2 separate regions of the Homo sapiens genome follow, and region 2 is linked to region 1. The links come from fine-mapping of genetic effects on gene expression. Tissue or cell type: whole blood. Region 1 holds a variant in brackets; the other region holds the start of a gene. All regions are shown on one strand. Distances are from middle to middle.

What was found. PIP is the estimated chance that this variant, and not a neighbour inherited with it, causes the effect.
Region 2: FBXO45 starts here. The variant in region 1 is fine-mapped to the expression of FBXO45 in whole blood (TOPMed, PIP 0.91).

Annotation. Positions count from the first base shown.
Region 1 is chr3:196,331,752-196,334,433 of GRCh38, forward strand. All of the region lies in intron 1 of TM4SF19 (transmembrane 4 L six family member 19), which reads right to left. All of the region lies in intron 1 of TM4SF19-DYNLT2B (TM4SF19-DYNLT2B readthrough (NMD candidate)), which reads right to left. Among named protein-coding and RNA genes, the nearest start is that of TM4SF19, 5.3 kb to the right of the region's middle. The variant C/G (reference allele first, on the strand shown) is at 1,639.
Region 2 is chr3:196,567,051-196,569,732 of GRCh38, forward strand. FBXO45 (F-box protein 45) reads left to right here and starts at 1,610. Exons shown (of 3, transcript NM_001105573.2): 1 at 1,610-2,252. The coding sequence starts at 1,935. WDR53 (WD repeat domain 53) reads right to left here and starts at 1,504. Exons shown (of 4, transcript NM_182627.3): 1 at 1,469-1,504; 2 at 1-257. RefSeq lists an enhancer at 1-845 and silencers at 1,567-2,106, 2,228-2,522.

The sequences.
Region 1 (2,682 bases):
ACTCCAGCCTGGACAACAAGAGTGAAACTCCGTCTCAGAAGAAAAAAAAATGTAATAGAGGTGAGGTCTCCTTATGTGGCCCAGGCTGGTCTCAAACTCCTTGGCTCAAGGGCCCTCCCACTTCAGACACCTAAAGTGCTAGGATGACAGGCGTGAGCCACTGCACTTGGCCACTTGAGGCTCTTGACACGCCTATAACACACTGCTTTGCACCTAATCAGAAAATATGTGTATAGAGGCCAGGCACGGTGGCTCACGCCTGTAACCCCAGCACTTTGGGAGGCTGAGGTGGGTGGATCACGAGGTCAGGAGTTTCCGACCAACCTGGCCAACATGGTGAAACCCCGTCTCTACTAAAAATACAAAAAAATTAGCTGGGCATGGTGGCGGGTGCCTGTGGTCCCAGCTACTCGGGAGGCTGAGGCAGTAGAATGGCGTGAACCTGGGGGGCTGAGATCACGCCAGTGCACTCCAGCCTGGGCAAGAGAGTGAGATTCGGTCTCAAAAAAAAAAAATTAACTGCGTGGTGGTGTGCGCCTGTAATCCAAGCTACTCAGGAGCTTGAGGCAGGAGAATCGCTTGAGCCCGAGAGGCAGAGGTGGCAGTGAGCCCAGATCACGCCACTGCACTCCAGCCTGGGTGACAGAGCAAAAGAGAGAGAGAGAGAGGAGGGAGAGAGGGAGGGAGGGAGGGAGGAAGGAAGAAAGGAAAGGAAGGAAGGAAAGAGGAAGGGGAAGGGGAAGGGAAGAAAAAAAATATATATATATATAAAAGATATGGATCAGAGGCTCTATATATATGCACACACACATATATATCATATACATATAATGTATAATGTGCGTATATATGTGTGTACGTACACACACACACACACACAATAGTCCCCCATATCTGCAGGGGATATGTTCCAAGAGCTCCAGCGGATACCTGAAACCACAGATCATACCAAACTCTGTATATTCAGATGCTTCTCCACTTATGATGGGGTCGAACTCCTATAAACCCGTTGTAAGTCAAAATATCCTAAGTTCAAAAGGCATTTAATGCTGGCAACACAGTAGACTGTCCCTGACTCACAATGGTTCAACTTACAATTTTTTTTTTTTTTTTTTTTTTGAGACAGGGTCTTGCTCTGTCACCCAGGCTGGAGTGCAGTAGCACAATCATTGTTCACTGCAGCCCTGATCTGGGCTCAAGTGATCCTCCCACCTCAGTCTCTCGGATAGCTGAGACCGCAGGCATGCGCCACCATACCTGGCTAATGTTTTAGTTCTATAGAGACAGGGTCTCACTATGTTGCCCAAGCTGATCTCAAACTCCTGGCCTCAAGTGATCCTCTCACCTCCACCTCCCAAAATGTTGGGATTACAGGCGTAAGCCACCACGCCCAGTCCCAATTTACTTTTGACTTTGTGATGGTGCAAAAGCAATGAGTATTCAGTAGAAACCGTAATCCCATCATAAAGGGTAAGGAGTTCACTGATGATGGAGTTAGGTCCCTAGAAACCTGTCGTAAAGTTGGAAACTTAGAAGTCAAACCACTATAAGTAGAGGACTGTCTGTACTATGCTTTTTCCTATACATACATATCTGTAATAAAGTTTAATTTATAAATCAGGCATAGTAAGAAGTTCG[C/G]AACAATAATAATAAAATAGAACAGTTATAACAACATACTGTAATGAAAGTTATGTGAATGTGGTCTTTCTCATTGAAAATATTTTATGTAAGTTTTTTGAACTGCAGTTGACCACAGATAGCTAAAACTTTGGAAAGCAAAGCTTCAGTTAAGGGGGGATTACTTTACATCACACATAAATAATGAAATATTTCACAGCATGAAGAATTAAACATTGGGGGAGGGCCAGGGCTGAAAAACTATCTGTAGGTACCGCGCTCACTACCTGAGTGACGGGAATCACTCATACCCTAACCTCAACATCACACAATAGACACGGAACAAGCCTGTATATGTATCCCCGGATCTAAAATAAAAGTTGAAATTATATTTTTAAAATTTGCATTAAAGGCCAGGTGCAGTAGTTCACGCCTATAATCCCAGCACTGTGGGAGGCCGAGGCGGGTGGATCACTTGAGGTCAGGAGTTCAAGACAGCCTGGCCAACCTGGCGAAACCTCATCTCTACTAAAAATACAAAACTTAGCTGGGAATGGTGGTGTGCGCCTGTAATCCCAGCTACTCAGGAGGCTGAGGCAGAAGAATCACTTGAACCTGGGAGGCAGAGGTTGCAGTGAGCCAAGATCGCACCACTGCACTCCAGCCTGGACCACAGATCGAGACTCCGTCTCAAAAAAAAAAAATTGCATTAAAAAAGAATTAAACATAATGTGTAAAATATATTTGTAACTTGTGTGAGATAATTAACACCCATGTAAACACAACCAATATCAAACATACGTCATTACCCATCACATCACTGACACTCAGGTGTGCCCTCTCCAATCCTGCCTTCTTTCTGGATTCCTTCCTAGGAACTACTATCCTATATTTCATCTTCAACATATCCTTTTAAAAACAGTTTTACGACTTAGGAACTCAGAATTGTTTTAGAAACTTGTTTAGTCGGGTGTTTTCCATTTTTCAAGACTGTAGCTTTTCTTTTCTTTTTCTTTTTTTTTTTGAGATGGAGTCTTGCTCTGTCTCCCAGGCTGGAGCTCAGAA
Region 2 (2,682 bases), 240 kb after region 1:
ACTAGTCATACCACCACCGTCCCGTTCAAGAGTCTGTGCCTCTAAGGCTGTTCATTCTGTCTAGTTCATGATCCCTTTCTCAGATGGATCAACTCTGCTTATCCTTGAAGACTTCAAAGAAATTAGTGAGAGACAGTCACCATCACCAGAGTCAGCACAGGTCAACTTTTCTCTACAGGCTTGGGGTTTCTGAAGTTGGACTTGATGTGGAGAAGCTGGATAGCAACCAAAATGATTGAAGGGCTGTGGCGCTGGCACTGGTAAGAATGAAAAGAATTAGGGTTACTGGACTTGGTGAAAAAGACATGAGGAGAAGGGACAGGCAAATAATAATCAAACACCATGAATCAGAGGGTAGGGAAGGTAGCCACCGTTCCTTTGCTTTTACTAGAGACTAAGAAATGGATTATACATAGCAAGAAGCTTCAGAAAAGATTTCTTACTACATAAAGGTTCCAAGACATTGGAGTTGACCAAGGGAGTCTGTGAACCCTATTATTTTAATTACTCAGCTCATGGAGTTGTTTTGAGGATTACGTATATAAAAATCTGCGTAAATGACGTAGTATACAGTGCCTGGTTCACACCGTGGCTCAAATGATGGTTATTATTATTCTCTTACTAAGCATGCTTTAAAGGCTGTCGGAAAACTTTGGGGCCACCTAGGAAATCGTAGTATAATCAAATAATGCTGAAATTCTTGTGTGTGTGTGTGTGTGTGTGTGTGTGTGTGTGTGAGGTAGGGGCTCACTCTGTCGCCCAGGCTGGAGCACAGCAGGGCGATTACGGTTCACCTCAGCCTCGACCTCCCGGGCTCAGCCTCCCAAGTAGCTGGGACCAGAGGCGCACGCCACCACCCTCGGCTAATTTTTCTATTTTTTTGTAGCGACACTGCCTCGCAATGTTGCCCAAGCTGGGATGCTGAAATTCTTCCCCTTCCAAGAATCCATCTATAATTATAGCCTCCACGTCATTCTCCCTATTGGAATGTTTAATTGACTAAAACTACATTGCCTTCATCTGCTTACTAAGCGGTGGATCCAGTAAAGACCACATCTTGTCCAAAAGACGGCAGCACTTAATTAGCGCTCAAATGGCACTCGAACGTTTGGGCGAGGGGGTGTTCAGTCGCAGCCACCTTACTTTGCGAAGGCACACAGGGACAGACGTTCGCTAAGTGCCGATACTTAGGGAGAACGAGAGGGCCTGACCAGGTAAAGACGGCCTCCGCTGCCCAAGCTACACAAAAAGGTTGGGGAGCCAGGACCCGGCAAGCAAGGAGAGAAAAGTTTCATGCGTTGAGCTGGAGTCTGAAGCAAGGACCTAACGGACACAGGGAAACGTCACAGGAAAGGGAGCCCAGGAGAGCAGACGCGGAGCCACCAGACCAGAAAAAGGAAAAAGCACTGGAAAACAGCATCGAAGTCACCGGAAAGCAGCATCGAAGCCACCGGCGCCAGCCTCATACCTGCGCTTCCCGCTCCCCTCCTCGGCGCCTAGTGATAACCTCACCCGCCGGCGCCCAATCCCGTCGAGCGTCAGGCGTGAGGCGGCGCAGCCAAACAGTCACATCCGGGGCCGAGAGGAACCGCGAACGAGCTGGGCGTGCGCCCTTGCTTCGTGCCCTCAACCCGCATGGCGGAGCCGCTGGCGCGCCGCGGAGAGGCCGGGCGAGTCGGGCGGTTTCGGCGCCCGCGCTGAGCCGCGGAGGAGGGGCGGAGGACGCCCCTGCAGCCGGTGCGTCTGCCCTCAGTGAGGCGGGGCGCGCGGCGGACGCCCCCGGGCAGGGGCGGGAGTGGTGGAGGCGCCGGCGGTTGGCACTGACAGGGGCGGTGAGCGAGCCGCTCCGGTCTCCGGGCGAGGCTTGGCCTTCCGAGCAGAGACGGCGGGAAGCGGCGGCGGCAGCGGCGGCCCTAGGGCCGGCTGGTGAGGCGATGGCGGCGCCGGCCCCGGGGGCTGGGGCAGCCTCGGGCGGCGCTGGCTGTAGCGGCGGCGGCGCGGGCGCGGGCGCGGGCTCGGGCTCTGGGGCCGCGGGGGCCGGGGGCCGGCTGCCCAGCCGGGTGCTGGAGTTGGTGTTCTCTTACCTGGAGCTGTCCGAGCTGCGGAGCTGCGCCCTGGTGTGCAAGCACTGGTACCGCTGCCTGCACGGCGATGAGAACAGCGAGGTGTGGCGGAGCCTGTGCGCCCGCAGCCTGGCAGAAGAGGCTCTGCGCACGGACATCCTGTGCAACCTGCCCAGCTACAAGGCCAAGGTGAGAGAGCCCCGGGCCACACCGCTGCCCCCAGTCCCGCTCCCCGGCGTCGTTCGCGGTGTTTCTCATCCGAGCTTCTGAGTCAGAAGCTTCGCCTCACCAGCCCGCCTTTCCACGGCTCCAGTCAGTATCTTCCTCACCTCCCCCCAAGATAAAGATTCTCTTTTCTTTGGATCGAAGTTCTGCTCCTTAACCCATCCCACTTCCGTGATCCACTTTTCAAACAACTAGGTAGTTTGCCTCACTCATTCAACTTTTGACAGTTTTCCCCGTTAAAGACAGACCACCACTCTTGTACCTTTTAATGCCCTCATCCTACTTTTCTCCCCGGCCTCCAGATAGACTTCATTATATTAAATAATCCCGGCCACCTTAACATGGGCTTAGTTTCTAAGTTTCTAAGTTTCTAGTTTGCTTTCACTCCACGTTT